4 linked regions of the Homo sapiens genome follow. The protein of the gene in region 2 purifies or fractionates together with the protein of the main gene of each other region. This does not show direct contact. Each region holds a gene or a part of one and is shown on either strand. Other genes may lie near its edges. The genes, in order: OPA1, SCN2B, THADA and FASTKD1.

Region 1 (7,918 bases), on a different chromosome or scaffold from region 2:
CTTATGAAGCTTAGTTTGGCTGGATATGAAATTCTGGGTTGAAAATTCTTTTCTTTAAGAATGTTGAATATTGGCCTCCACTCTCTTCTGGCGTGTAGAGTTTCTGCCGAGAGATCAGCTGTTGGTCTGATGGGCTTCCCTTTGTGGGTAACCTGACCTTTCTCTCTAGCTGCCATTAACATTTTTTCCTTCATTTCAACTTTGGTGAATCTGACAATTATGTGTCTTGGAGTTGCTCTTTTCGAGGAGTATCTTTGTGGCATTCTCTGTGTTTCCTGAATTTGAATGTTGGCCTGCCTTGCTAGATTGGGGAAGTTCTCCTGGATAATATCCTGCAGAGTGTTTTCCAACTTGGTTCCATTCTTCCCGTCACTTTCAGGTACACCAATCAGACGTAGATTTGGTCTTTTCACATAGTCCCATATTTCTTGGAGGCTTTGTTCGTTTCTTTTTATTCTTTTTTCTCTAAACTTCTCTTCCCGCTTCATTTCATTGATTTGATCTTCCATCACTGATACCCTTTCTTCCAGTTGATCGAATCGGCTACTGAGGCTTGTGCATCCGTCACGTAGTTCTCGTGCCTTGGTTTTCAGCTCCATCAGGTCCTTTAAGGACTTCTCTGCATTAGTTATTCTAGTTAGCCGTTCGTCGAATTTTTTTCAAGGTTTTTAACTTCTTTGCCATGGGTTCGAACTTCCTCCTTTAGCTTGGATAGTTTGATTGTCTGAAGTCTTCTTCTCTCAGCTCGTCAAAGTCATTCTCTGTCCAGCTTTGTTCCGTTGCTGGTGAGGAGCTGCATTCCTTTGGAGGAGGAGAGGTGCTCTGATTTTTAGAATTTTCAGTATTTTTGCTCTGTTTCTTCCCCATCTTTGTGGTTTTGTCTACCTTTGGTCTTTGATGATGGTGATGTACAGATGGGTTTTTGGTGTGGATGTCCTTTCTGTTTGTTAGTTTTCCTTCTAACAGTCAGGACCCTCAGCTGCAGGTCTATTGGAGTTTGCTGGAGGTCCACTCCAGACCATGTTTGCCTGGGTATCAGCAGCGGAGGCTGCAGAACAACGAATATTGGTGAACAGCAGATGTTGCTGCCTGATCGTTCCTCTGGAAGTTTTGTCTCAGAGGGGTACCCGGCCATGTGAGGTGTCAGTCTGCCCCTACTGGGGGGTGCCTCCCAGTTAGGCTATTCGGGGGTCAGGGACCCACTTGAGGAGGCAGTCTGTCTGTTCTCAGATCTCAAGCTGTGTGCTGGGAGAACCACTGCTCTCTTCCAAGCTGTCAGACAGGGACATTTAAGTCTGCAGAGGTTTCTGCTGCCTTTTGTTCGGCTATGCCCTGCCTGCAGAGGTGGAGTCTACAGAGGAAGGCAGGCCTCCTTGAGCTGCAGTGGGCTCCACCCAGTTCGAGCTTCCCAGCTGCTTTTTTTACCTGCTCAAGCCTCCGCAATGGCGGGCACCCCTCCCCCAGCCTCGCTGCCACCTTGCAGTTTGATCTCAGACTGCTGTGCTAGCAATGAGCGAGGCTCCATGGGCATAGGACCCGCTGAGCCAGGCGCGGGATATAGTCTCCTGGTGTGCTGTTTGCTAAGACCATCGGAAAAGCGCAGTATTAGGGTGGGAGTGACCCAATTTTCCAGGTGCTGTCTGTCACCCCTTTCCTTGGCTAGGAAAGGGAATTCCCTGACCCCTTGTGCTTCCTGGGTGAGGCGATGCCTCGCCCTGCTTTGGCTCATGCTCGGTGCGCTGCACCCACTGTCCTGCACCCACTGTCTGACAATCCCCAGTGAGATGAACCCAGTACCTCAGTTGGAAATGCAGAAATCACCCGTTTTCTGCGTCGCTCAAGCTGGGAGCTGTAGACTGGAGCTGTTCCTATTTGGCCATCTTGGAACCGCCCGATTGTGATTTAAAATGAGAACGAGATGGTCCCTTTGGTTCCTGGTCCCTGTAACTGTTGCAATTGAAGGGGCATAAGCTTATTAGCCTTTTGAGGTTTTTTTTGCTCTAGAGTCTTCTCAAAATGCTTAGCTAGGTTGGGCACGATGGCTCACGCCTGTAATCCCAGCACTTTGGAAGGCCAAGGTGGGAGGATCACGAGGTCAGGAGATCAAGACCATCCTGGCTAAGATGGTGAAATCCCATCTCTACTAAAAATACACAGATTAGCTGGGCATGGTGGCACACGCCTGTAGTCGCAGCTACTCGGGAGGCTGAGGCAAGAGAATTGCTTGAACCTGGGAGGCAGAGGTTGCAGTGAGCCGAGATTGCGCCACTACACTCTAGCCTGGGTGACAGAGCAAGACTCCACCTCAAAAAAAAAAAAAAAAAAAAAAAAAGTTCAGCTAAGGCCACCAATTCAGTCACATCTCTAACTTCCCATTGCAACTTATGTTTTTTAGTTAAACTGCTAAGTTCAGGATGGAGTCCATTTATAAGTAAAGCAGTTAATGCTGTTTCAGCCCCTGCAGGGAATACTCCTTGCTGTACTTTGAGCCCAGGATGTTTCACAAATATTTCTAAGCGACTTCTGTAATCTGAAACTGGTTCATCTTTTCTTTTCTTTTTTTTTTGCTTACAAGATTGTATGATGGACCAATTTTTTGTGGAAAAATTTTAGGAACTGAATGTTAAAAGGTTTTCAGCGATTTTTCTAGCTATTTTTGGTCCTTCTTGTGAGGAGCTCTTAGAGGGCCCTTTAAAATGTCCTCCTCAGGTTTGTCCCATTCTGCTGCTGCCATCCATTTCTGAGCTTCACCAGCCCCCAGTATCATATGAATAAATTGGTAAATTCATGAAGTCCTGGATCGTAAGCTCCTATTAGGATTCTAAATTCCTCAGTAAATTTTTGAGACTTTTCCCTTGGACCAGGGAAGTCCTTCACAATGGGGCTAAGCTCAGTTTTAGACCATGGAGTGAAAGTAGTTACAGCAGGCAGGCCTGGCTGATATAAGGTCTCACTTTGTAAGACATCTGTCTAACTTCCTTTTTTTTTTTTTTTTTTTTTTAAATCATCTTCAGGGTGAAAGTGTAATTTAACAAAAAGTTTAGTGGACTCAGAGTATGTAGGTAGAGATGGACAAAGAAGGAACAGTCCGAGTTAGATCAGTCAAAGTACAGTCCTCTTTCTTCATGTCCTTGGTCTGTTGCTTAAGCTTTTCATTTGGTTTTTGCAAAGAATCTTTTAAGGAGGCACTTTTTGATTCACTTAGTCTTTTGGAGGCCTTTGCGTATCCATGAGACAATACATCCCACTGTATTTGTGGGGGCTTTGATCCCCTTTTTCTAATATGCCTTGCAAACAATTTTATCCAAATTAAAACTTCTCCATTGTGGCCATTTTAATTCTAAGTTTTCTTTAGTGAGGTTAACCCATTTTACTGAAAATGCACATGTTCTGGGCCCATAATTTTTATACGTAAAATTAGCTGGAGTCCCTGAAGATGGAGTCCCAGACTCCTTGGATTGAGATGATCCCATTATTAAATAAGGTACTTATCAGAGGTCTGAGGCCTCTAACTGAATCCAATCCAGTTAATTATCAAATCCAATTTGATCTTGGATCCAGTCCAGGCTAAGTATTGCTTGAGTAAACTCGGAGAGCTCAAAACACAAGTTAGTGGAGCTCGGAATCTGAGAGAAAACTCACCCATGACCTCCAGTTACAATCAAGAGACCAGTGAGAGCAACGGCCTCAGTGGGTACCTCACCAGGTCACCTGGTGTTCCAGGGGGTTGCCAGAGTTTTTCTTCAAATCCCACTTCTGACACCAGATCTGTTAAAAGAAAACTTCAGACAAGTTAAATTTGATGGAGTTTAATTAAGCAAGGAAAATAAACACTTTGCAAATCAGGCAGCCTCCAGAATTGAATGCAGTTTGAACACTTAGCAGTCTATTAGTGCTTGAAGTATGGCCACTGGGATTGGCCAACACTCAGCTATTATTACAGATGCATACTACTCAGGTTTTCCATTTTGTCTGCCTATTGTGCTAGGTTATGGTTTGTCCACAAGAACACAAATATAGAAGTATGGAGTCCTTCTCAGGCCATATTTAGTTTGCTTTAACAATACTTAAAAAAAAAATTTGTAAAATAAGGATACTTAACCTTACTCGGTGTTTCTGAGAGTTAACATTTATATAGTTATGCTGTAGTGAAAACAGCTAGCGTAATGTCTGGTATGTATAGGAACACAAGAGATACCGCTTTTCCCATATCCCCATACCATTCTTCACAGCATTGCTCCTGTCTTCCTTGATTCCTCCTCCTCCTTCTTTGTTTTTTTTTTGTTTGTTTGTTTGTTTTTTTTTGGAGGTGGAGTCTCACTCTGTTGCCCAGGCTGGAGTGCAGTGGTGTGATCTCAGCTTACTGCAACCTCTGCCTCCTGGGTTCAAGTGATTCTCCTGCCTCAGCCTCCTGAATAGCTGGGATTACAGGCACACACCAACACACTCAGCTAATTTTTGTATTTTTAGTAGGGATGGGGTTTCACCATGTTGGCCAGGCTGGTCTTGAACTCCTGACCTCAGGTGATTCACCCACCTCAGCCTCCCAAAGTGCTGGGATTACAGGTGTGAGCCACCACACCCTGCCTCCTTCTTAAGAAGTTTCCAGTCCCTTGTAATTAAAGGAATTAATATTTTTTAACTACTTAGAATCAGACTGGCCCTGATTATTAGTAAGCAACTAATAGTAAGCAAGCAACTATGTATGCAACTATGAGTGTATGTTAAGATATGGTTGTTGGTAACCTTTCATTCTCTTCAGGAAGAAGAAGAGGGTGGAGCTCTACAGTCAATGTGTACATTTAAATTCTGTTCCCTTTCGAGCTTTTTTGCTACTTTCATTCTTCTGGGGATCCAGGTGCTTGAGTTGGGATTGATTAACTTCCTTAATTTCCACCCCTGTGCTGTCAGGATCGGGAGACATAGATGAAGGTGTTCTAAACTGCTAGAAATTTTGTTTTTGAAAGCAAAAGTTTGCATGCATTTTTGTTTTCAACTTTTACTTACAGTGAATAGTAGTTAATAAAATAAGTCCCTGCCTTTTCTCTCTTTGGTTTCAATTCCTGAGACCAGGATCATAGCCCACATATTAGAGTGGAGTCCCACTGCTTTGGTTTGAATCATGCCTTTGTTTCTTATGTCAGTGTGACTTTGGGCAAGTTATTTAAGTCTTTGCACCACATTTTCCTCATCTGTAAAATGAGGATAATACTAGTACTTTCTACATGGGATTGTTAGCAGGATTAAATGAGATAGCACATACTGTAACCATGTCTGGCACATAGTCAATGGTTAGTAAATGTGAACTATTGTGTGACATTGTGGTTAGTCACGTATGGGGCTGTGTTTCCTTTAGTATATTGCTCTTTTAATGTCATTTCCTTTGTACTGTTACCCTCTCTGATCTTTCTTCCATATTCATTTTTCTTTCAGTGAGGTCTGCCAGTCTTTAGTGAAACACAGCTCTGGAATAAAAGGAAGTTTACCACTACAAAAACTACATCTGGTTTCACGAAGCATTTATCATTCACATCATCCTACCTTAAAGCTTCAACGACCCCAATTAAGGACATCCTTTCAGCAGTTCTCTTCTCTGACAAACCTTCCTTTACGTAAACTGAAATTCTCTCCAATTAAATATGGCTACCAGCCTCGCAGGAATTTTTGGCCAGCAAGATTAGCTACGAGACTCTTAAAACTTCGCTATCTCATACTAGGATCGGCTGTTGGGGGTGGCTACACAGCCAAAAAGGTGAACTTGACATTCCTCCTGGTTTTCCAATTATTATATCATGATTAAGTTTCTATAGCATAAATCATTTTTGTGTAGTGGAATACAATTGGATGTTTAAACATTTATTTTGTGTCTCTACCATGGACTAGATTGTTTTAATGATGCTAATAGGAAGATGCCTTTAGAATCTTAGTTATAATTACAGGAAATTAAAATGGCCTAGTGGAAGGAGCACAGGGCTGGGAATAGGAACACCTAGGTTTGATTTTGAGCTTAGACATTTAGTAGCACAGATGTGAAAGTCAGGTGGCATTCTCACACAAGCACTTCTTGGCAGGTCTGGGACCAGAGGCAAGGCGTCCTGTCTCCCAGTCTGTCTTCCTTCTACCCCACAGTAATATTTAGGGCAAAATTATGAAACCTGTTTGAAATAGGAGTATATTCTGAATTTTTACATTTTCCATATTTAACAGAGGAGTGTTAACTTGTTTTATATGCTTGTTTGCTGAGACCACTTAATTTTGTTTCTTAAAAGTTTTGAACATAATACATTATTCTTAGTAGATTAATGTGTTTTAATTAAATAATTTTTCTTTACATGTTTATTTGGCATGCAGAGCATCTGATTGACACACTTTCTTGTCTTTTAGACTTTTGATCAGTGGAAAGATATGATACCGGACCTTAGTGAATATAAATGGATTGTGCCTGACATTGTGTGGGAAATTGATGAGTATATCGATTTTGGTTTGTATCATGAACATTAAAATACTTTTTTTGGTCATCTCGAGGAAAGAGAAATAGTTTATTGAGATAGTTTCTTAACTTATGAACCTAATATATCACGGTTTTATTTTAATGATATAAGTAATAGAATATCAATGAAAAAATCTGTATAAAAGAAATACCCAGTAGCCCATAATTTTACCACAGCTGCCACTAACTGTTTGGAGCATTTTCTTTTAATTATACTTACTATATGTGGTTAGTATCTTTTTAACTTATCGATTGAGACAGGATCTTGCTCTGTCACTCAGGCTGAAGTGCGGTCTTGGAATCATAACTCACTGCAGCCCTGAACTGGCTAAAGTAGTCCTTCCGACTCTGCCTCCCAAGTAGCCGGGACTACATGTGTGTGCCACCATGCCCGACTGATTTTTTAATTTCTTGTAGAGATGAAGTCTCACTATGTTGCCCAGGCTAGTCTCAAATTCCTTAGCTCAAACCTCTCACCTCAGCCTCTCAAAGCACTGAGATTACAAGTGTGAGCCACTATGCCTGGCTTGAGTTTTTTTCTTTTAATTTTTTTCTTTTCATGAATACTACCACAGAATAGTATTTTAGTTCCCTTTTTAAAAATTATGTAATCATGGTGAATATTCACTTTGGTATTTTGTCTTTTGCTACCTAACATATTTTGTCAGCATTTCCATGCTGCCAAGTAGCCTTTCTATTAATAATATCATTTTCTGCATTATGTAATGTTGCCCAGAGCATATTTATTGTGACCCACCTAGCTAGCTCCTTTTGATTGGATACCTTGGTTATCTCTACCTTTTGTAGCCAAGTTCTTTAAAAGTCTGTTAGTATCCAGGGTAATTTCTTTTCTTAGTTGGCCACTGCCCTCCCTTTTTCAATAGGTGGATGAGAAAAAAGTATATTGGATCGCTATGATTGCCAGTAATTCATGGTGATCTTTAAGAAATATATTTTCATCAAATTTTTTTAAAACCTTTGTCAGATTTCTTAGTTTAGGTGTATGTGGAGGTGGAATTAATCTATACTTGCACTTATTCACAGAATTTATAAAGATAAAACTGTTCTATGTTGACGAATCCATTTGCAAAAAAAGCACACTTTCAAATTGTTCTTCTAATATTAATGAGGAGAGCTTTCAAATTGATGTATTTGCCAGTACCACAGCGTAGTGGCTGAGAGCCTGTATTCTGGAGCTGGACTGCCTGGGCTGGAACCCGGGCTCCTCCACTTCCTTGCTGTGTACCTTAGTTTCTCATCTGTAAATGGTGTTGATAATAGTAGCTGTTTTGTAGGGTTGTCATGAGGATTAAACAAGTTAATACTTTAGCCCTTTATAAGAATAGTATCTGACATATTTTCTTAGTTTCATACTCTATATGTTTTGATCTTTTCCAGAGAAAATTAGAAAAGCCCTTCCTAGTTCAG
Region 2 (7,883 bases):
TCCCGGGGCAGCCCCTGCCTCCCAGGTGAGTGTGGCATCCAGCCCGTATCTCCGCACCTGCACTGCCTTACCATCCAGACCCTTCCTGCTCAAGGGCCTCCCCAACCCCGGCCACTCCAGTCCATCCCCGTGCAGCCAGGAGCAACCCACCCTCATCACTCCTCACCTCCAGACCTCCAACGGCTACCCACTGCTTTCAGGATCAAGTCCAGGCTCCTGGGCACAGCTTCCAAGCCCTTTGGCATCTGGGACCAACCTATACCCTAGCCTCATCCCCTGCCAGCCCCCATCCCCCCAGGTCTCCTTCACTCCAGTGACCCCAGTTCTGATTTTTTCTGAAAACACCACCTTCCTTCCCTTCTCCATGCCTTTGCACGTATTTTTGCTTCAGGTTGAGAAGCTCATTTGCCCTCCTGCCCCTGGGCCCCTCCTACTTATTCTTCAGGTCCCAGCTTACAGGGCATTAGCCTCGGTGACTGTTTCCCCATTGTCCTTGTCCTCACCCCAGCCCTGTTCCTATCTCTTCCACATGACTTGAGGGCAGAATGGCAGGATAGTTAACCTCCCAGTGCCTCAGTTTCCTCATCTGTAATATAGGGGACAATAAGCCCAACTTCATAGGGCTGTCGAAGGATTAAATGACTTACTACCTGTATGAAGCTCAGCACAGTGCCTAGCACATGGCCTGGACAAAAGTCAGCTGCGACTATGATGAGCATTATTGCTATTATTGTTGCCATACATACAATGTTGTCTTGTTATTATTTGTTCATGGGCCTGTTTCCCTCTAGAGGCTCCGGGGAACTGACTCCTATTCATCTTGGTATCCCTGGCACCCAGGACAGTGTGTGGCAGAGTGGGGACTCAATAAAGTCTACTAAAGGAAGAAGAGACAGCTTTCTCTCCATGTCTGGGTCCCCACCACCACAAGCAGCAGATATGTGCAGTGGGCTAGAGTGAGGACTAGACTTCACTTTCTTTCTTTCTTTCTTTCTTTCTTTTTTTAAGAGACAGGGTTTGGTTCTGCTGCCCACGCTGGAGTGCAGAGGCATGATCACGGCTCACTGCAGCCTGGAACTCTTGATACTCCTTCTTCAGCCTCCTGGAACAGTTAGGACTACAGGTACATGCCACCATGCCTGGCTTATTTTTCTTTTCTTTTTTTTTTTTTTTTTTTTTTTTTTTTTGTAGAGACAGGGTCTTGCTATGTTGTCCAGGCTGGTCTCCAATTCCTGGCCTCAAGCGATCCTCCCACCTCGGCCTCCCAAAGCACTGGGATACAGGCGTGAGCCACCATGCTCAGCCCAGACTCCACTTTCTATGCCTCCACTAACATAATCCATACATTGGTAAGCAGGCCAGTGACTGTGGAGTCAACGGTCTCAAGAAAAACTTGAGGGAAGCCCAGTCATTTGAATTGTTTCTGGCTAAAACTAGCCTCATATGCTTCTGCCGTGGGTAGAGCTGGTTGCCCACCTGCCCTTTCTCTTTGCCACCTCCATAGTCATCCCCACAAGCCCAGCCCCGACAGAGTCCCCTCCCTCGTCACTTGTGGCATCCTCCATCCTGGGGATCGATGCTACTGCAACACCACCAAAGTTCCACTGTCAACTCGGCCCTCAGCATTGGAGTGCCAGGGACATGCCTCATTACAGCACCAATCAAGTTCAAGTTCAAGGTCCCCATTCCTGCATCCTCTCCCACTCAGCTTTGCAGAAGCTTTAGCTTCCTCCCACTACCATCTCCCCACCCCAAACACTCAGACCTCTTCATCGCAGACTCCCTCTTCCTCACCCTAGCCCAGAGCTCTGGGTCCTGGTCACTGAGCCCCCTTTCTATCTTTACTTAGCCATGGCTCTCACCAGGCGGCTTCTCTCCTGCACGAAGTGCTTCCTAACTCCTGAGGAAAGGGTCCTGTCCTCCAGCTGGGCCTCCTTACAACAGGCCACTCACCCAACTCCCCTTCTTTCAGCCTGTCCTGAGACTCTGATCAATTAGGTACTGTTAATATAGCAGTGCCATTTCTTGAACATTGGGGAGTGGAATCCAACGTTTAAGAGAATGTGCTGAAGTCAGACACAGGGAGTTCAAATTTCAGCTCCCGTTACCATAGTCATCTGTTTCCTCCCTGTAACCTGAGTATAATAGAATCTACCTCCGATTGCTGTGAGGGCTAAACAAGATACACAGTGCCTGGGCTCACGAAAAGCATTCTTATGTTAGCCATCGTTGAGTTCCTGCCATGCACCAAATCACAAACACGTCAGGCAGTAGGCATTCTTTAGTTTACCCGGGAGGGAACTGAAGCTCAGAGGGGTTGAGTAACTTGCCTGTGATCATTACGTAAATGACAAAGGTGGCTTGAAACCCAGGTCCTGCCAGAGATTCCATAGCATTCCTGCTCTGATGTTAATATGCCAAGTAACTCAGCAAAGCAGGCTGGCAGGGCCTCTGCACTGTCTGTGTTTAGCACTCCTACTCCAAACCCAGCACATCACACCACAGAAAGAGAGAGAGCCTTTGTGGTGGGGAATAGTTCCATCAACAGTCCTTGGACTTGACTCTCAGTTGCTGCTCCAGCAATAAGTAAGTTTAGGAGCAAGAATGAAACTCTACAAAGCAGGCTTGCAAATAACTTTCTAGCCCACTTCCCCACCAGGAAGTCTCTGAGTGGTCAAATACAAACACTTGACAGGACAGTCTGCAAGACTGGGCTGGGCAGTTCTGAGGCTGGATTTAAAGGGCTGCAACCTCGCTCAGCCTGTGGGTTCCATTTTTTTCCTGAATCTCTACACCTGGCCCTTCCTCCATTCCATCCGGCCCAAGCCAAAGGTGCCTTCTCCATCAGTGCGTGCCTCAGCAGGTCTCCTCCCAACCCAGACATCATTCCCCAAGCCCGCTTCCCACCTACTCCCACACACGTTCCAACAGATCAGTGAGACCGAGTGCCAAGAAGCCAGACCCAGACTCAACTTTCTGCCACCAGCTCCCCTGCACACTCTCCTAATACCCTAAATCCACCAGGATCAAGCTTCTGAAAAGAAGCCCCTTAAGGGAGCATTAAGTCCCAGGACCCCGCATTTGCAGCAACTCCAAAAAATAATCCCTGAAGAGACTGCAGGTCAATCCACTCTCTGCCCCACCGCCACGTAGGTCCACTTAGGGGAAATCCAGAGAAGATTCACCTCCCTTGACAATTGTCAGCCCCCAGCAACACTCAGATCCCCTGACCCAACATTTCTGTGACTAAGTAGTCCCAGGGTTCTGCACTCCCCAGCAACGTCCCTTCCAGTCCCCAGCACCTCCCCTCCCAAGGACACAGAGGGAAAGCGCTAGCAATGTCTTCTTTCCTATCCCCTGCCCCCATCCTCTTCACATTGCGGCTACACTTCTGAACCCTCGGGAGCATGCAGATGTGTCTAACTTACCCAAAGAGAAAAAGAGACTGAGCCCCGTGAGGCTGAAGGCAGGGCGAGGTAGCCAGGCATCTCTGTGCATTTTCAGAGACTGAGATGTTAGTCGGGTGGGCTACGGGAGAGGGTGATTTGAGGGGGCGAGAACTACAAGGGAGGAATGGTTGGATGCTAAAAAAAAATGCACGGATGTACTTCAAAGACATATACAACATTAAGGAAGCTTTATTTCCATCTCTCTAATATGGCCGGCTTGTATGTTGCTGCTAAAAAGAGAGAGAGAGGGAGTGTGTAAAGGAGAGAGAGAGAGATGGGGGGGAGAGAAAAGGGGGATGGGGTAAATATTGTGGTTGGTGGATTTCAAAAAGCAGGTGGGAGGGCATAAAAAAGTCATTTTGAAAAGAACAAAATCCCAGAAATTTTTACCCTCTAAAACAAGAAATAATACAAACCCTGCTTTTTGACTTCACTGGGATGATTGTTGGATTTTGAAAGCTATTAGAGGAATCCATTTATTTTAAAGATTCTGGAAAGGGAAACACCTTTTATCATTTAAAAACACCCCCAGGCTGACGCAGTGGCTCACACCTGTAATTCCAGCACTTTGGGAGGCCGGATGGATTGCTTGAGTCCAGGAGTTCAAGACCAGCCTGGGCAACATGGCAAAACCCATCTCTACTAAAAATACAAAATTTAGCCAGGCATAATGTCGCATGCCTCTTGTCCCAGCTACTGCACCGCACTCCAGCCTGGGCCCTGCCTCCAGAGGGAAAAAAAAAAAAAAAACCTAAAAAAAAAAAGGAGATGCTTGTTTTTGTGTTATTGAAAAGGGTTCAGGAAAGTGAGTTGGAGAGACTTTCAAGGGGTAATGCTTTCCTCATTCTAGCGTTTCCTCTGAAAACAGAACATGTTGAAGCAGGCTGATAGAAAAATACCCAAGAGATCTTACAATTGAATGTAACACAGGCCTTTGGATAAACCTGATTCAAACAAATCAACAGGAAAGAAAAGTTTTTGAGACAATTGGGAAAAGTTAAATATGAACTACATAGTAGATTGTATTAATGAATCATTCTTAATTTTGTTGGGTCTGATAAAATGTGGTTTTGTCCTTTAACATCTCTATCTGTTAAAGACACACATGGGTGGCCGGGCGGGGTGGCTCACACCTGTAATCCCAGCACTTTGGGAGGCCGAGGCAGGCAGATCACCTGAGGTCAGGAGTTCGAGACCAGCCTCCCTAACATGGTGAAACCCTGTCTCTACTAAAAATACAAAAGTTAGCCGGGTGTGGTGGCGTGTGCCTGTAATCCCAGCTACTTGGGGGGACTGAGGCAGGAGAATTGCTTGAACCTGGGAGGCGGAGGTTGCAGTGAGTCGAGATCACTCCGCTACATCCCAGCCTGGGCCACAGAGTGAGACTCCATCTCAAAAATACATATATATATATTCAACGAAAAAAAGAGATGGGAGAATAGGTGACACGAGACTAGTTGTTTTGCTTGATAATTGAAACTAGCTGGTGATGGGTGTAAAGGGTTTGTCATATAGTTCTCTCTTCTTTTGTGTATGTTTAAAACTTTTCTTTTGAAGAAGGAAGAAAAAATAAGCTAACGTCATAAGTAGGAGAACTTGGTGGGTGGAGTCCAAGGTGGTCCTAAGCAGAGGTGACCCCCATACTCCTGGGGAGATGGTTAAGTAGGGCAGAGATTCGCATGCAGCAGTCACCTGCATTTGTGATGGGCCCTTTGTGTACCAAACAGGGAGCAACTAATATTTTTGAGCATAAACTCTGTGCCAAGCACTTTACATGTGATATCTCAATTTTTTATTTTTTTATTTTATTATTTTTTTTTAGACAGGGTCTCGCTCTGTCACCCAGGCTGCAGTGCAGTGGTGCAATCTCAGCTCACTGCAATCTCTGCCTTCTGGGTTCAAGCAATTCCTGTGTCTCAGCCTCAAGAGTAGCTGGAACTACATGCACGTGCCACCACCCCCAGCTAATTTTTTTGTATTTTTAGTAGAGGCAGGGTTTCACCATGTTGGCCAGGCTGGTCTCGAACTCCTGACCTCAAGTGTTCCACCTGCATCAGCCTCCCAAAGTGCTGGGAGTACAAGCGTGAGCCACCATGCTCAGCCTGTGGTATCTCAGTTTAATCTTTTCTTTTTTTGTGTGTGAGATGGAGTCCCGCTCTCTCTCCCAGGCTGGAGTGCAGTGGCGCGATCTTGGCTCACTGCAACCTCCACCTCCCAGGTTCAAGCAATTCTCCTGCCTCAGCCTCCCAAGTAGCTGGGATTACAGATGCCTGCCACCATGCTTGGCTAATTTTTGTATTTTTAGTACAGACAGAGTTTCACCATCTTGTCCATGCTAGTCTTGAACTCCTGACCTCGTGATCCACCGACCTTAGCCTCCCAAAGTGCTGGGATTACAGGTGTGAGCCACCGCGCCCCCACCCTGTCAGTTTAATCTTAACCCTGGGATAGGTGATTTCTTTTTCCTTTTTCTTTTTTTTTAATTTATTTATTTTATTATTATTATTATTATTATTATTTTTTTTTTTTTTTTTTTTTTTTTTTTTTTGCGATGGAATCTCACTCTGTGGCCCAGGCTGAAGTGCAGTGGCATGATCTTGGCTCACTGCAACCTCCGCTTCCCGGGTTCAAGTGATTCTCCTGCCTCAGCCTCCTGAGTAGTTGGGTTTACAGGTTCCCGCCACCATAATTTCTTTTTTCTTTTTCTTTTTCTCTTTATTCTTTTGTTGTTGTTGTTCAGACAGAGGCTTACTCTGTGGCCCAGGCTGGAGTGCAGTGGCACAATCTTGGCTCACTGCAACCTCCACCTCCCAAGTTCACGTGATTCTCCTGCCTCAGCCTCCTAAGTAGCTGGGATTACAGGCTCCTGCCACCACGCCCAGCTAATTTTTGTATTTTTAGTGCAGACAGGGTTTCACTATGTTGGCCAAGCTGGTCTCGAACTCCTGGATTCAAGTGATCTTCCCGCGTTGGCCTCCCAAAGTGCTGGGATTATAGGCATGAGTCGCTGCACCTGGCCTTTATTCTTTTTTTTTTTTTTTTTTTTTTTTTTTTTTTTTTTTAAGACGGAGTCTCACTCAGCTGCTTAGGCTGAGGTGCAGTGGTGTGATCTCGGCTCACTGCAACCAGCGTCTCCCAGGTTCAAGCAATTTTCCCTTCTCAGCCTCTTAAGTAGCTGGGATTACAGGCACCCATCATCATGCCTGGCTAAGTTTTGTATTTTTAGTAGAGACGGGGTTTCACCATGTTGTCCAGGCTGGTCTCGAACTCCTGACCTCAGGTGCTCTGCCCACCTTGGCCTCCGAAGGTGCTAGGATTACAGGCATATGCCACTGCGCCCGGCCTATTCTTTTTCTAGTGGCAAATGAGGAAACAGAGGTTCATGGGGCTCAACCCACCCAAGTTTACATATGAGAGTTTAAGGGCAGAGTCAGGATTCAAACCAAGGTCTTCGTGAAACTCTGGGTGTCTCCAGCATTCCACATTGCTTAGCACCAAGGGAAGGATAAATGGAGCTACCTCCAGGTTGTCTAGAAAGGCACAGGGAAGAGAAGACCAACAAGACACATGAAGCAATTAGCCCCTGCAGGTGACATAAAAGCAAGGGCTAAGAGGCAGGCTATGGAGAAACAGTGAGAATCCAGCACAGTGCCTGGCTCAGGGCAGAAACTTCGTCAGCAGACGGTGAATGACTGTACAGGGGCACACCTGAGTGAATTAATGAATCTGGAGAGCTAAGGGAGGAAAGTAGACACTGCGGAGGAAATGAAATCCTTCCAAGGCCTCTCAAGCTGTTCTGGGCTGGGGAGGAGCAAGGGGGCCAGGGATTTGAGGCAGAGTTGCCAGAAGGCAGAAGGGTGGGTAGTCTAAGAGCCCTTTGTGGTTGTCCCTGCCCAGATCACACACAGATTCTGTCCCCAAGTGCCTCTGTCCCATCCCTAGGGTCTGGCTCTGGCTGGCCCATTCACAAAACACAGGGCCCACAGGGCAGAATTGCAGGGAAGGAGAGGTGGGGCAGCCTGGAAGAAAAGTCTCCTTCAGTGGCCATGCCTGGCCCCATCCCCAGTGCCCTCCGGCCCTGAGGTCTACCCCGCTGTCAGCAGCTCACAGCTGTGCCCGGAGGGGTGGACTGGCACAAGCCGGGCCTCAGCTCCCGCTTAGGCGTGCACTGCCAAGTCCCACTCTGCAGCACAGCCATCCATGCTGCCGCAGACACATGTCAGCTCTGCCCCGTTGCCAGAGATTTTTGGTTTGACGTAGCCGGCCTCCTCTTTTTTTCTTAATGCAGCAGAGGGTGCCCGTGAGGCCCAGAAACTGAAGGAAGCTGCTTGCCTGTCTCACTTGGTCTCACATTAGGTCCAGAAGCTCCTATTTTGGGGGCATCTGAGGCAAGAAGTGGATCCAGAAGATCTGTTTCTATCCAGAATTCAGCAA
Region 3 (7,918 bases), on a different chromosome or scaffold from region 2:
AAGGGCAGAGTGGATATTTAGTACGTAGTTTATGATGTCATAAAGAAGTGTTACTTCTTTCCCCAGGTTGAACAACTCACCATGGTATTAGAGGCTAATAGAGATAAAACAAAAAGAAGATACCAAGTCAAAACTGTTTGGTTGCTATGGGTACAGTGTCAGTGCTAGCAAAGTTTGTAATTAGCACTTACCTACATTCTTTATACAAGCCCTGAAATCTCTTTTTGAAAAAGTCTGTGTATATGGTGATTGGGATACAGAGGCATTGGTGGAGGGGAGGGGACAGGTGGTGTTGCTGTTAGGTGTTTTGGGAAGCAATAGTTGGCGAGGAAGAAAGTGTATGTTAGAGGAGAGAGGAAGGAATCACGTTTATTGAGTATCTATATGCTGGGCTTAAAAGCCTTTATATTCAGCCGGGCACAGTGGCTCATGCCTGTAATCCCAACACTTTGGGAGGCCGAGGCAGGCGGATCACAAGGTCAAGAGATCGAGACCATCATGGCCAACGTGGTGAAACCCCATCTCTACTAAAGATACAAAAATTAGCTGGGTGTGGTGGCACGCGCCTGTAGTCCCAGCTACTTGGGAGGCTGAGGCAGGAGAATCGCCTGAACCCAGGAAGTAGAGGTTGCAGTGAGCTGAGGTCACGCTACTACACTCCAGCCTGTCAACAGAGTGAGACTCCTTCTAAAAAGCGTTTATGTTCATTATTCATCTAAACCTGACACTGCCTCAGTTAAGAGTTATCCCATTTTACCCAAGAGAAAAGAGAGTCTGTGGGATGTTAAATAACTTAGGTAAGACCTATTCACCCAGGAAGTGGTCAGACTAGAAATTGTACCCAGGCCTATCTGGCTGCTCAGCATCTGCTCTTTCCACTCTACCAGAATATTCATTATTTAACACAAGCTTCTCTCCTTTTTTGCCAAATAGATGATCTGTTACAGACTGTACAGAGCACATCTGGATTAGCTATTATTCTTTTTATTAAGACTATGTTTCACCCGTCTGAAAAGATTCCTCATTTGGTAAGTGCATCTCCTTTTTAGAATTGTACTTTATTGAGAGTTAGGGTATGTTTAAAAAATAATTTTGGCTTGGTGCAGTGGCTCACACTTATAATCCCAACACTTTGGGAGGCCAGGGCAGGAGGGTCACTTGAGGCCAGGAGTTTGAGATTAGCCTGGGGAGTTTAGCTAGACCTTGTCTCTACAAAAAAAAAAAAAGAAAATTTGCTGGGTATGGTGGTGCACAGCTGTAGTCCCAGCTCTTTGAGAGGTTGAGGTAGGAGGATCGCTTGAGCCTAGGAGTTTAAGGCTGCAGTGAGATAAGATTGCACCAGTCTGGGCAACAGAGTGAGACCTTGTCTCTTAAAAAAAAAAAAAATTAAAAATATTTTTAAAGAAGTGAATTAAAATAATTTTTTTTTGCATTGTCTGGTTCCTTCTGATGACCTTTTTCTGTTATAATAAGAGACAATTCCAAAAATTCAGATAAAGCAACAATAACAAAAAGACAATAACAGTCACCTGTAAGTCCATCTCACAAAGATAATCACTATAAACATTTTTGATGTACATTCTTTTAGTTTCTTTTTAGTGCTGTTTGTTCAGTGTCATCTCTCATTAGTATCTTAAAAGATATTTTTAATGTTAAAATTATGCATATCAATGTATAGATATATACACAGTAATAACTTTTCTGATAAATGTATTCTTTATTGAGAATAACCCAAATCATGTGCTTTAGACAGGAAGCATGCTAGATAGAGTCAATTGTTCAGTAAATTTGCTTCTTACAGAAAGTATAATTTGATAATTTAGGCCACAATCCTTGTATTTTTTACTAGTAGATTTCTTTTTTTGCTTGCTATATTGTATGGAAACTTATTTTATCTTTTTACCTGACCTTAGAAAAATATATTATGAGATCACACAAAGTAATTATCTTTGGATAAGTCGAAGATGTTTATTTCTCAAATCACCTCTAAAAGCATTTGTTTAAAAAAAAAATACATACCAAAAAAAAAAAGCAGTTGTTAAGCTTATCCACCTGCAGGTGGCGATGTGTTGTGCTCTGCCAGTACATTCCAACCAGCAAAATCATTCTCGTACTTGATGTAATTTTTTTCCTTTAATACTAATACAATAATCATGACATTTGTGGGTATTTTATCTTTGGATTTAGTCATTTTTCCTAGGATTTTTCAGGGGAAAGAGATGTTTGGGTTTGTATTTTGAAATATCTCTGAAAAGTTTTAAAAGCTTTATGTGTGTTAGCTCTGCTATATTTTTCCAGATTAGCAGTGTGCTGCTTCGTTCAGTGGACTGCACCAGTGTCCCCGAGTGGTTTATGAGCAGCTGCAGGAGCCTCTGTTGTGGTGACATCTCTCAGTCAGCTGTCTTATTCCTCTGTCAGGGGACACTTGCCATGTTGGACTGGCAGAACGGAAGCATGGGTCGGAGTGGGGAGGCCCTGCTCTTGGATACTGCACATGTTTTGTTCACCTTGAGTTCACAGTGAGTTTTGATGCTATCGTCTCATATTTTGTTTCACTTGTAAGACATTTAGAAGATGCAGTCCAAAAGCTGGAGTGGCTTGTGCCTCTAATCCCAGCTACCCTCCCAGTAGGCTGAGGCAAGAGGATCACTTGAGGCCAGGAGTTCAAAACCAGCCTTGGTGACATAGTGAGACTGTGTCTGTACAAAACTTTTAAAACTTAGCTGGGTGTGGTGGCATGCGCCTGTAGTCTCAGCTACGTGGGAGGCTGAGGTGAGAACATTGCTTGAGCCCAGGAGGCCGAGGATGCAGTGAGATATGATTGTGCCACTGCACTCAAGCCTGGGCGACAGAGTGAGATCCTGTCTTAAAAAAATAAATAAATAAAATTATTGCTGCAGGTTAGCCTGTAAAGAACATTTCTAAAATTAATTTTTAACATTTTCAATGTTATCGTTTTTAAAAACTATAAAAATTTTTATATGTATAGTGTTTTAGAATTTATAAAGAACTTCAACATAGGTAATCTAATGTGATCCTCAAATGGCTACTATATAGGATAAGAAATCTAATTTGTTGAATGGGCAAAGGGAGGCTTAGAAAAGTAAATGCTTACCTGAGACCATATTGCTAATAAGAACCTGAAACAGCAATCTTAGAAGGTCTTCTGACTTCATGGGGCTGTATTTTGTATTTTTGTGGTGTTTTTGCCATAATGGCTGAAAGTGATCATGTATATGAAATGTCGAAACATATATACAGCTTGATAATACTGAACATATGAATAAAGGAGGAAAACTAAAATAATTTTTTACATATTTGAGCTATATTATGCAATTCATAAATTTGAAGTGTACAATTCAGTTTATTAGTTTATTCACAGAGTTGTACAACCACCAGCATTTCTAAAATTAATTTTTAATATTCTCTTTGCTATATTTTTTCTTTAAAAATTTTTTTCCTGAAATTTGTTTTTAGCATCATTTTTTAAAACTATAAAAGTTTCTACATGTGTAGTGCTTTAGAATTTATGAAGCACTTTAACATAGGTAATCTAAAGTGATCCTTATCAACATTTCTGAAATGAAGTTTTAACATCTTAAAAGTTAATTCAAACAACTTTAGAATATTTTTATCACAGAGAAGCCCCATTCCCCCAACCATCTCCAACACTTGGCTTTCCTTATCTTTTAAATTACATGTGTAGGCCGGGCATGGTGGCTCAAGCCTGTAATCCCAGGCTTGCAGATCTCAGGCAGGTGGATCACTTGAGGTCAGGAGTTCAAGACCAGCCTGGTCAACATGGTGAAACCCTGTCTCTACTAAAAATACAAAAAATTATCTAGGCATGGGGGCATGCGCCTGTAATCCCAGCTACTGAGGCGGCTGAGGCAGGAGAATCGCTTGAACCTGGGAGGCAGGGGTTGCAGTGAGCCGAGATCGCACCACTGCACTCCAGCCTGGGTGACAGCAAGACCCTGTCTCAAATAAATAAATAAATAAATAACTTGTGTAATCATCACAGTCAAGGTAGTGAATATTTCCATCATCCCCCAAATTTCCCTATGTCCCTTCCTGGACTATTATTATTTTTGAGACAAAGTCTCGCTTTGTCACCCAGGCTGGAGTGTAGTGGCATGAGCACAGCTCATTGCAGTCTCACTCCTGAGCTCAAGCAATCCTCCCACCTCAGCTTCCCAAGTAGCTGGGACTGTAGGTGTGTGTCACCACACCCAGCTAAATTTTTAAATTTTTTATAGAGATGGGGTTTCACTATATTGCCTAGGCTGATCTTGAACTGCTTTCTGGATTATTTTTTACAAGGTAAAAAGAATCATATACAAATTTGAGATCTGTTTTGGCTTTACTTGTAGTTTTTTGTTCTTGTAAATTTAATAATTGAAATTTGTGGTCATTCTGTGTATTTAATATTTTTAAAGTCTAAATTGTTATAAAATGAAATTTCTTTTACTAATCAGTTTACAATAATGGCTCATGGCTCATTTTTCTTCAGGATTAAAGAGCCAACGCTGGAAATGTTTCTGTCTAGAATCTTAGCATCCTGGACTAATTCAGCCATACAAGTCCTTGAATCAAGTTCCCCGAGCCTAACGGACAGCCTGAATGGGAATTCAAGTATAGTTGGGAGACTTTTGGAATATGTCTATACCCATTGGGAACATCCATTGGATGCTCTGAGACACCAAACCAAAATCATGTTCAAAAACCTTCTCCAAATGCACCGGCTCACTGTGGAAGGTGCAGATTTCGTCCCTGATCCTTTCTTTGTGGAATTGACTGAGAGTCTTTTACGATTGGAATGGCATATTAAAGGAAAGTACACGTGCCTTGGTTGTTTGGTAGAGTGCATAGGAGTTGAACATATTTTGGCTATAGATAAAACTATTCCATCTCAAATCTTAGAGGTGATGGGAGACCAGTCATTGGTACCTTATGCAAGTGACCTCTTGGAAACCATGTTTAGAAATCATAAGAGTCATTTGAAATCCCAGACTGCTGAGAGTTCTTGGATTGACCAGTGGCATGAGACTTGGGTTTCTCCTCTCCTTTTTATATTGTGTGAAGGAAACTTGGATCAAAAATCTTACGTGATTGATTATTACTTGCCAAAATTATTAAGTTACAGCCCTGAAAGCTTACAGTACATGGTAAAGATTCTTCAGACTTCTATTGATGCTAAAACTGGTAAGAAAAATGCATTTTTGTTTTAGTAGTTTCTAATTATGATGCTTAAATGTAGGTAGCTATGCAGATACTAATCATATTCAAATTTAAATATCACTTCTATAAATAGTAAAGGAAGAGATTAATGATAGATGTTTCAGTTTGAAACGAATGTTCCTATATATAGCTGAATGGAGTTTTTTGGCTGAAGTCATTTCTACAAGCTAAAGAATAATTCCACTTAAAATGATAAACTTTCCTGTATTACAAGGTTTTAATTCATTTTTTCAAGTTCTGAATTTATTTTATTGTATCACTGAAATAAAAGTTTGTGTGTCTTATATAATGTGCTTATTCAAGTCATTGAGACAATAATTAAAAATTGTGTTAGGCAAGGTTAAAGACAGGTAACTTGGCAGTAGCAAGTTTTTTTCTCTGGGGAAGTGACAAAATTCAGAGGCATGATCTCAAGAAATAGCCATCTATAGTTATTTAGAATAGGGGTAAACATCCCATTGAAACTCACAAACCCTACAGGAATCACTGCATTCAAGCATAATTCAGGATGTGTAAAGTGATGATCATGACACATCATATAAATCTTAAAATTATTACATTCTGTTTAACAAAGCAAGAATGTAGTATCGTACAGCATAATTTTAAGAAATATTTTCAACTAAAATTGTTAAAAACGTTCAGTACTTCAAAGAGTAACCATGAGGTAGCAGGAAAATTTGATTCCTGTATGCAAAAATAAGCCATTATTTGTAATTTTTGACAACACTTGTTCTTGAGTTTTTGAAAAGCCATCTGAAATTCAGGATTCAAGAATCTGTTCTGAAGTAAGGTTGTCTTTATTTTTATATCAAGCTGCCCTGTCTTCTTGGTAATGGCTGACGTCCTAGCCTCTGAAACCAGCAGGCTCTTTGTGTTCCTTTTTTAATCTTTACTAGTGAGAAACAGCCACTCTAAAATATGCAGAGAGGTTCAGTGTTTACTTTTAGAGAAGTAATAGTCTGTAGCCACTGATGTGCTTATTTCTCCACCTGATTTTATTTCCTGATTTGCTGCCTGATTCCCTTTCTAGGTGTTAGGGAAAAAGCAAAAATGTTAGCAGGTAAATAATGATTTGTTTATGTTAACGATAAGAGAATTATGCTTACTTGAAATGATTGACAAAAGGGCAAATCATATTAAATAATGATTATTTTAGAATAGGAACTTTAATTTGTGTTAGAAATGAGTTTAAAATGTGATTTTTATTTATTGAAATAAAATGTTAATTGGAAACATGAAAATTAGCAGCTGATAATTATAGTAGTCATTGCATAATACAGTAATGGTCTTTGTTATTGTGCTTTCAGGACAAGAGCAATCTTTCCCATCCTTAGGGTCTTGTAATAGCAGGGGGGCTCTGGGAGCTTTGATGGCATGTCTGCGAATAGCTAGAGCTCATGGACATCTTCAGTCTGCAACTGATACCTGGGAGAACCTCGTGTCTGATGCAAGAATAAAGCAAGGCTTAATTCATCAGCATTGCCAAGTAAGTAAAGAAAATTACCTGGATTTGTACATGCAGTAGATCCCTTTCATGTAGCAGTTCAATATAGAGGCCCCTACATTGTATCCTGAACTGTTTTAGGGAGTTCATAAAGAGAATGAGTAGAAACCCTAGTCTCCCAACTAAACTTTCAGTAGGCCCTTTCTTCAAGCTACTGAAAGTTTAGTTGAGGATGTAAGAAAACTTACATAAAACAACTGGAAACTCTTAGAACTGACAATACAGATACAAGCATGCCATCATGTGCCCTTAAATACATAAGGACTCGCTTGGAAGGCTCAGAAGAGACTGATCAGAGCAGGTGGTGCTTGATTAGGAAAGTGATAGATATGATTAGAAAAGAGGAAGCCTTGGAGCAGCATACAAAATGGAGGGACCCAAATGAGCAAGGTCTGGAGGATGATTAAGAACATTGCTTATCAGGGGTGGAGTGTTTTGGACATTTTTTGGAAAGGCCTAATGCTAGGCTAAAGACTTAGTTGGTTCCCAGGCACCAGCTGGTTTTACTAAGCTAAACCAAAGCTACTCTGTTTTCAGCAAGGAGTTACATTAGTGGAAACGTGAGTTTCCAGAGTGGGAGCAGAAAGAAACCAGGAAACCAGTTAGAAGTGTCTGGCAGTAATTTAAGAGTGAGGTGATGGGGTAAAAGGGGTCACTGGAAAAAAAGAAAAAGGAATGAAGCTGAGCATTACCACGGAATAAAAATCTTTAAGATTGTTGCATTTTATAAATCCCCAATTTACATGTTTAATAAAAGAATTGTATAGGAAATAACCCTAGGATCTTTGAGATTAGGAAACCTTTCTGAGGTACCTATTGGTGAACTGAAGTTTACTTTTTTCCTTTTGTAGCCTATGTAAGTAAGCAATTCAAGTGATTTAGGCTTTGCTTATTTCTTGGAAAATTAACATTTTATTGCTTGATGTTTTTTAGGTAAGGATAGATACATTAGGCTTGCTTTGTGAAAGTAATCGGAGCACAGAAATTGTTTCCATGGAAGAAATGCAGTGGATTCAGTTCTTTATTACATACAATCTTAACAGCCAGTCTCCAGGAGTGCGGCAACAGATCTGTTCTCTTCTTAAAAAGGTAGAATTTCCCATCAGAAGGCATAGGGAAGTGGTGAACTTTGTTTGGGAAATCGTTTTTAAAAAGAGCCCAGATTTTGGGAGC
Region 4 (8,544 bases), on a different chromosome or scaffold from region 2:
TATTGAGAAACAACCTATTGTACCAATACCCCCTAGAAAACATATGTGCCGTCCATTTAATTACAATAACGAGATTGCAAACAAGTTATCACAGACAAAATTTACTAATTGCTGATTGTTATTAGGCATTACTTTTTTTTTTTTTTTTTGGAGACAGCGTCTCACTCTGTCGCCCAGAATGGAGTAGAGTAGCATGATCTGTGCTCACTGCAACCTCTACCACGTGAATTCAAGAGATTCTCCTGCCTCAGCCTCCAGAGTAGCTGGGATTCCAGGTGCCTGCCATCACGCCCAGCTAATTTTTGTATTTTTAGTAGAGGCAGGGTTTCACCATGTTGGCCAGGCTGGTCTTGAACTCCTGACCTCAGGTGATCCACCCACCTCAGCCTCCCAAAGTGCTGGGATTACAAGTGTGAGTCACCACACCCGACTGGCATTAATCTTAAATCTAACTGCTTACCTACTATATCCTCATCTGCAGCCAACCACATTTTCACAAAACTCCACAATAATCCAATTTCAAATGCCCACAGTTAACAATAGTATTACAGTTGTTAAAGGAGAATTGCTTGAACCTGGGAGGCGGAGGTTGCAGTGAGCCAAGATTGTGCCACTGTACTCCAGCCTGGTGACAGAGCAAGACTCCGCCTCAAAACAAAACAAAACAAAACAAAAAAATTAGATTATCAGGAAAACTACTGGTGAAAAAAATTATTTTTCATTTTGAAGAGATTTTTAGACCTGGCACAGTGGCTCACGCCTGTAATCCCAGCATTTTGGGAGGCCGAGGCATGCGGATCACAAGGTCAGGAGATCAAGACCATCCTGGCTAACATGGTGAAACCCCGTCTCTACTAAAAATACAAAAAAATTAGCCGGGCGTGGTGGCAGGCGCCTGTAGTCCCATTGACTCGGAAGGCTGAGGCAGGAGAATGGCGTGAACCTGGGAGGCAGAGCTTGCAGTGAGCCGAGATCATGCCACTGCACTCCAGCCTGGGCGACAGAGACTCCTCAAAAATAAATAAATAAAATGAAAATAAAGAGATTTTTAGAAAATTAAAATGTAAACTATATAATCATTCCATAAAATATAAAAGTAAATTACTTACTGTTGTGTGACGTATAACACATTCACCAGGGTATCGTCATTCATTAATTTGAATTTATTTGTAGCTAAATTATGAAGAGTAAGAAATTGAGGATGGTCTCTGACATACTCAGCATTTTTTAACAGGCTGGTCTTCTGCTTTTGAAGCTTCCAAAGCATATCAAATGCACATCCCACTTGCTTTTCTGAAAGTATGGCTTTGTTTCTTTCAATAAAACCAAACATTTGCTCCTCATCTGTACACTTATTCATCTGAATAATTAGTGGTTCACAACTGATGGGTCGAAATTGAAACACTCTCCAGGAGAATGGACAAATAGCTCTTAGACGAAGCATATTTGTAACCAATGACTCTAGGAAAACAGGTGTTTTTTTCATTTATATCACAAGTTTTCTTAGGTAAACAAAACCATCTGCAACTAGTCGTCAGGTGCAATAAGCAGGGATACAAATAACAGTTTTTCCTTCATGTATTTTGCTTCCATTACAATGACTGTAAACGCATTCCAATGTACAGCTTCTATAAAAGAATTGGTTTAACATGGTTATGCTTACATCATTAATATCAAAATGATTCCAAAATTCAAATTAAAGTAATACATTTTTTCTGCATTAACTAAAGACTTTTTCTTAGTCTAAACCAGATAGCAGAATTTGATCAAAAAATAAATGTCCAGAAAAAGGGGCTTCTTTCTGCACCCCATTTTAAAAGTGTTTTAAATCTGACATTTACATAAAGTTTTCAAATTTACCATAAAAGGAAAAAAAAAGCCCACAAACTCAGAGCTGTCTTTTCGAAAAAGAGGAAAATTGTTTAAAATAAATAATCACCTTCAAAGTTTCTAAAAAGTGTAGGCATTAATTCAGAGCCATATATATTTATACATACATATATATATACTTTTTTTTTTTAATTTTTCAGAAGTATGGTCTCAGGTTTATTTGCTTTCAGGATAATTTCTTGCCCCTTTTTCTTGTGCCCTTAAAGAGCTCAAATAATTCCTTTCTTTAGAAAATAAATAAATAAAAGAAGTCATATAATTTAATCATTACTGGCCTTGGATAGGTTTTAACCAATGAACGACACAATTAAAGCACCAATCAAGAAATACTAAGAAATTAAGTAATGTTTCAAGTCATGCTGAAACAATAAAAGAACTAAAGATAATTATGAAAAAAGAATAATTTGTTTTAAAAATATGCTATAAATGTTTACATTTATAATTGAGAAGTAATGGTTAGAAAAGCAGGGACTAAAGTCATATAATCTAATATTTCTGCAACATGTTACCATTTACAAAGAACGTTTGAAACACATTATCTCATTAAATTCTCTCAGCTAACCTTCCAGGTTGATATTATTTCCATTTTACAGATAAGGCAAAATAGGTTCAAAAAGGTTTAAAAAATCCTTCTAGTACTAGTGAAGCAGGGACTACAACTCAGTTCTTTCCACTTGAACAGCTTCATTACACAAACAAATCAACGCTGTATCACTAAATTCATGTCTCAGACCCCTCTCTACGGCTATGCCAAACAGTCTGTTCACAAGAAAAAACGACGCGACAGTACAGGCTATTTTGTGGCAAGCAGTACAGCATCCTGACCTAAGCTGACCTGGGTCACAAACCTGCACAAGAAAACCCTGCACAAATCAAAGGTATCCTCAAGATACTATATTCATCCACTGAGCTGCTCAAAGTGGAGGCAGCTCAATGGTTAGCATAGAAAGGTGTCGAGTCCCCAGCTTTGCCCCAGCTGAATGACCTTAAGGAAGGAACTTAACTACAGGAAGGGCCTTGGGACCCTAAGGGGTATCTTCTGCGCCGGGCATAAAGGAGAGCTAAACAAATGAGTGAATGAATGGGGTCTCAGCCCTGCCCTAGTCCATCCGCACTTCAGAGAACCCAATATCCCGAAGGAAGCCTCCGTATCTCAACTGAACCCTATGTCCCCAGCCCGAAAACGTGCTGGGTGGGAAAAGAAAAATAGCCGCTGCCACACAGTCCCGACTTGCCAGCAAGGTTTTCCCTCAGCGCGCCGCAAATTTTCTGGAGGATCCTGGGGTTATGAAAGCTCAGAAGTCAGGGTTATTCCTGGTCCCAACACGGAACGAAACAGGCTCGGATGTCTCGCCCAACCCTCATATCTCAGGGTTTATAACCTTTCTTCGAGAGACATGACCTTTCCCATGAGACCTTGCCCCCAAACCAGGAAAAAATGCCCGGCAGGCGCAGCGTGCACTGCGGAAGTCACGCACTACATATCCCAGGGTGGGTCGCGGCGAGGTGGGTGAAATGGACGTCGCTCACGCATTTTGGGGGAATTCTGGGCATTGTAGTTCCTCATTGAGGGAGGCTCTAGCGCAGTACACAGCTTAAGCTGTTGAAGAAGATATAGGTCGTTTAGGTGATTCTCTACTATCTAAGGTTGTTCTCCTAGTCCTTGGAAGTCTACTACTTTTATAATATACACAAAAATATACTTAGGAAAATGAAATTTAAAAATGTAAACATGGAAAAGACACGTACAGATTTTTCTTATTATTTTTTAGCATATACGAAATAACTCTGTCGAGTAACTTTGAAAGTATGCAAACTCATACTCTCAGTTTCTGCACTTATGTCGTGGATAGGTACCAGTTCTCAGACCATATTTTTTTTTTACTTACCATGGTATTTTAATAGTCCCAAGATTTGACACTTGACACTTAAAAAAAAAATACCACTAATAAATAACCAAAGTGGAATGCTTACCAAAGTTACAACAGACATAATTTTCAGCTGATAATCACTACAACAAAGTAAGGCTCTAAAGGTACCAAACTGATATTTGTTGGAATATGCTGTGCAACTTTCTTTTTTTTATTTTATTTATTTATTTTTTTTATTGATCATTCTTGGGTGTTTCTCGCAGAGGGGGATTTGGCAGGGTCGTAGGACAATAGTGGAGGGAAGGTCAGCAGATAAACAAGTGAACAAAGGTCTCTGGTTTTCCTAGGCAGAGGACCCTGCGGCCTTCTGCAGTGTTTGTGTCCCTGAGTACTTGAGATTAGGGAGTGGTGATGACTCTTAAGGAGCATGCTGCCTTCAACCATCTGTTTAACAAAGCACATCTTGCACCGCCCTTAATCCATTTAACCCTGAGTGGACACAGCACATGTTTCAGAGAGCACAGGGTTGGGGGTAAGGTCATAGATCAACAGGATAAGAATTTTTCTTAGTACAGAACAAAATGAAAAGTCTCCCATGTCTACTTCTTTCTACACAGACACAGCAACTTTCCGATTTCTCAATCTTTTCCCCACCTTTCCCCCTTTTCTATTCCATAAAACCGCCATTGTCATCATGGCCCGTTCTCAATGAGCTGTTGGGTACACCTCCCAGACGGGGTGGTGGCCGGGCAGAGGGGCTCCTCACTTCCCAGTAGGGGTGGCCGGGCAGAGGCGCCCCTCACCTCCCGGACAGGGCGGCTGGCGGGGCGGGGGGCTGACCCCCCCACCTCCCTCCCGGACGGGGCGGCTGGCCGGGCGGGGGGCTGACCCCCCCACCTCCCTCCCGGGCAGGTCGGCTGGCCGGGCGGGGGGCTGACCGCCCCCACCTCCCTCCCGGGCGGGGCGGCTGGCTGGGCGGGGAGCTGACCGCCCCCACCTCCCTCCCGGACGGGGCGGCTGGCCGGGCGGGGGGCTGACCCCCCCACCTCCCTCCCGGGCGGGGCGGCTGGCCTGGCGGGGGCTGACCCCCACCTCCCTCCCGGAGAGGGTGGCTGCCGGGTGGAGACGCTCCTCACTTCCCTGACGGGGCGGCTGCTGGGCGGAGGGGCTCCTCACTTCTCAGACGGGGCGGCTGCCGGGCGGAGGGTCTCCTCACTTCTCAGACGGGGCGGCCGGGCAGAGACGGTCCTCACTTCCCAGACGGGGTCGCGGCCGGGCAGAGGTGCTCCTCACATCCCAGACGGGGCGGTGGGGCAGAGGCGCTCCCCACATCTCAGACGATGGGCGGCTGGGCAGAGACGCTCCTCACTTCCTAGATGGGATGGCGGCCAGGCAGAGACGCTCCTCACTTCCCAAACGGGGTGGCGGCCGGGCAGAGGCTGCAATCTCGGCACTTTGGGAGGCCAAGGCAGGCGGCTGGGAGGTGGAGGTTGTAGCGAGCCGAGATCACGCCACTGCACTTCAGCCTGGGCACCATTGAGCACTGAGTGAACGAGACTCCGTCTGCAATCCCGGCACCTCGGGAGGCCAAGGCTGGCGGATCACTCGCGGTTAGGAGCTGGAGACCAGCCCCGCCAACACAGCAAAACCCCATCTCCACCAAAAAAATACGAAAACCAGTCAGGCGTGGCAGCGCGCAGGCACTTGGCAGGCTGAGGCAGGAGAATCAGGCAGGGAGGTTGCAGTGAGCCGAGATGGCAGCAGCACAGTCCAGCTTCGGCTCGGCATCAGAGGGAGACCGTGGAAAGAGAGGGAGAGGGAGACCGTGAGGGAGAGGGAGAGGGAGACCGTGGGGAGAGGGAGAGGGAGAGGGAGAGGGGGCAACTTTCTTATTGTGTGGGTTACAGAGGAGACTCTTGGTTTATGTGGTCATGGTTATTGTCATAAAACCAGTTTTAGCACAATTTTCTTTTCTTTTCTTTTTTGAGACAGGGTCTCACTCTGTCTCCCAGGTTGGAGTGCAGTAGTGCAATCTCCGCTCACTACAACCTCCGCCTCTTGGGTATAAGCGATTCTCCTGCCTCAACCTCCCGAGTAGCTGGGACTACAGGTGCACACCACCATAGCTGGCTAACTTTTTGTAGTTTTGGTAGCGACAGGGTTTCCCCACGTTGCCCAGGGTGGTCTCGAACTCCTGGGCCCAAGCAATCCACCCACCTCAGCCTCCCAAAGTGCTTGGGATTAGAGGCATGAACCACCTTGCCCAGCCTAAATTTTCAATAGTTCTGACAGTCTATGCAAAATGTTGAGGCATGCTCACACTGGAAAAAAATTAAAACTTGAAGACTTCCTTCTAGAATGTCCAGTAACCAATATATATTTATTCTGACATTTCTGAAAACAGAGCAAAACGAAATTGAATAGGTGCTGGCATTCATCTGATGTATCAGGTTTATTTTATGACTGACTAGTCTTAATACTCCTAGATGTCGGGGTGTATAGGCAGCAGAACATTTTAAATTTGTTCAAGTAGAATATGGGAAAAATTAGAGTCAAATGAGAATACATTTTTTGTCTACTGTCAGTAACCTTCAATTAACCATGAAGACATAGGGAATGAATGGTTAAGCCATCAAAACTAAAATAGTTGTTTGTTTGTTTTTTCGAGATGGAGTCTCAGTCTGTCACCCAGCCTGGAGGGCAGTGGCCCAATCTCAGCACACTGCAATCTCCACCTCCTGGGTTCAAGCAATTCTTCTGCCTCAACCTCCCAAGTAGCTGGGACTACAGGCATGCACCACCATGCCCAGCTAATTTTTGTATTTTTAGTAGAGAAGGTGTTTCACCATGTTGGTCAAGCTGGTCTCAAACTCCTGACCTCAAGTGATCCCCCAGCCTTGGCCTCTCAAAGTACTTGGATGACAGGCGTGAGCCACTGCACCTGGCCTGATTGGATTTCTTCACTAAAAACTTGATTGGTCATTTGACTTCCTTTATCAGGAGGCTGCTAAGACATAGAAAGTCTCTGATAGCTGGGTCTTAAAAAAAAAAGAAAAAAGAAAAAAAGAAGTTAACTTTCGTTTCAAGTCTTGTAAAATTTCCTAGCTTTCTTAGGTTGCCAATATTTACATTGGGGAATACGGTCTACTTCACTTTTTGGTTTGGAGATGAACATTTACTCATTAAAAAATTGTTTCCCTCAACCAAAGAGCCGTGGTTTTGAGATCTGATACCAATGATGTCCTCGTGAGTTTTATTGCTCTTCTTCTCAAGTTTTTTTTCTCAATTAAAGGTACAGCCAATCCCATGGCTTGCTTGGTGATTTGTAGCATCTCTGCAATGCACCAAGGGGTATTTTTTCCATCATCTTCGGGATTGCGAATTATAGATCTCAATGTGTGGAAATAGCCACCTGCTTCTTGATGTCTGCAGTGCAATCGCAAGAGCAATAGGTTCAGGACCTATTCCTATGTTTTCTAGGTCTTCTAGACTTAGCCACTGACACTGGTTTACTTTATCAACTTCATCCTCTTAAGAGGTCACAAAGTAGGCAGAGTTAGAAAGCAGCAACAGCACATCACATCTCTGTGAGTAGCACCAAGGAGGGTGCACTCTGAAAACTGTTGCTTTAGCCAAGCCATAAAAATTACAACACAGGCTGGGTGTGGTGGCTCACGCCTGTAATCCCAGCACTTTGGGAGGCTGAGGTGGATGGATCACAAGGCCAGGAGTTTGAGACCAGCCTGGTCAATATGGTGAAACCCCATCTCTACTAAAAAAAATACAAAAATTAGCCGGGCATGGTAGTGCATGCCTGAAGTCCCAGCTACTTGGGAGGCTGAAGCAGAAGAATCAATTGAACCCGGGAGGCGGAGGTTGCAGTGAGCCGAGATGGCACCATTGCACTCCAGCCTGGGCGACAGAGCAAGACTCTGTCTCAACAACGACAACAAAAAAATTACACCACAATACATTTTAATATGAAATAAATTCTACTCCTACTAATTAGTGTTACTTTCATCTTAGCTTCCAATTTTTGCATTAATATTTACATCAGCCAGGCCAGGAACCGTGGCTCACACCTGTAATCCCAGCAGTTTGGGAGGCTGAAGCAGGCAGATCACCTGAGGTTGGGAGTTCTAGACCAGCCTGGCCAACACGGCAAAACCCTGTCTCTACTGAAAAATACAAAAAAAAAAAAAAATTAGCCGGGAGTGGTGACACGCACCTGTAGTCCCAGCTACTCAGGAGGCTAAGGCAGAAGAATCGCTTGAACCTGGGAGGCGGAGGTTGCAGTGAGCCGAGATTGCACCACTGCACTTCAGCCTGGGCAACAGAGTGAGACTCTGTCTCAAAAAAAAAAAAAAATTACATCAGTCAAACATGATCCTTAGTCAAAAATATGTCATTAACAAAAAGCACTTGGCACTTAACAGATGGTTGAAAAATGTCACCCTCCCCATCCTCATTTTTTCTAAAATCTTAGCTGCGGTAAATACTTAATTGTCCTCCCCATCCACCTTTCAGGGGGTGGGAGGTAAATCACATTTAATGTGAACAAGAGACAAAAAGAAAAACCCTTTAGGTACCTGCCTACCCCCCACGTTTGCCACTCCAAAGGAAAAGCTGCTCTATTCAGTTTTGTTTTCCCACCACTGAGGCAAGCCCTCCTTCCACACTATGAAGACATAAATTACCAACACCAGGTGAAGCCCGACCACTGCAATAATGGCCACTAAAAGGCACTGTCTTCACGGGACATTAACATCAGACTTTGGAGAAG

What was found.
Region 1: the proteins of SCN2B (region 2) and OPA1 purify together in Homo sapiens (affinity purification with mass spectrometry; 4 studies listed by BioGRID and IntAct, with this or other methods). This does not show direct contact.
Region 3: the proteins of SCN2B (region 2) and THADA purify together in Homo sapiens (affinity purification with mass spectrometry; 4 studies listed by BioGRID and IntAct, with this or other methods). This does not show direct contact.
Region 4: the proteins of SCN2B (region 2) and FASTKD1 purify together in Homo sapiens (affinity purification with mass spectrometry; 4 studies listed by BioGRID and IntAct, with this or other methods). This does not show direct contact.

The regions. Positions count from the first base shown.
Region 1 is NC_000003.12:193,609,290-193,617,207, forward strand, and holds part of OPA1 (dynamin-like GTPase OPA1, mitochondrial), read left to right. Parts: intron 1-5,433; coding exon 5,434-5,752; intron 5,753-6,384; coding exon 6,385-6,481; intron 6,482-7,888; coding exon 7,889-7,918. UniProt on the Homo sapiens protein: Dynamin-related GTPase that is essential for normal mitochondrial morphology by mediating fusion of the mitochondrial inner membranes, regulating cristae morphology and maintaining respiratory chain function.
Region 2 is NC_000011.10:118,172,934-118,180,816, forward strand, and holds the start of SCN2B (sodium channel regulatory subunit beta-2 precursor), read right to left. Parts: upstream 3,707-7,883; 5' UTR 3,499-3,706; coding exon 3,429-3,498; intron 1-3,428. UniProt on the Homo sapiens protein: Regulatory subunit of multiple voltage-gated sodium (Nav) channels directly mediating the depolarization of excitable membranes.
Region 3 is NC_000002.12:43,571,623-43,579,540, reverse strand, and holds part of THADA (tRNA (32-2'-O)-methyltransferase regulator THADA), read left to right. Parts: intron 1-933; coding exon 934-1,028; intron 1,029-2,298; coding exon 2,299-2,519; intron 2,520-4,513; coding exon 4,514-5,205; intron 5,206-6,548; coding exon 6,549-6,727; intron 6,728-7,678; coding exon 7,679-7,834; intron 7,835-7,918. UniProt on the Homo sapiens protein: Together with methyltransferase FTSJ1, methylates the 2'-O-ribose of nucleotides at position 32 of the anticodon loop of substrate tRNAs.
Region 4 is NC_000002.12:169,570,544-169,579,087, forward strand, and holds the start of FASTKD1 (FAST kinase domain-containing protein 1, mitochondrial), read right to left. Parts: upstream 3,323-8,544; 5' UTR 3,126-3,322; exon of another isoform or gene 2,453-3,125; intron 1,629-2,452; 5' UTR 1,487-1,628; coding exon 1,110-1,486; intron 626-1,109; exon of another isoform or gene 461-625; intron 1-460. UniProt on the Homo sapiens protein: Involved in the down-regulation of mitochondrial MT-ND3 mRNA levels which leads to decreased respiratory complex I abundance and activity.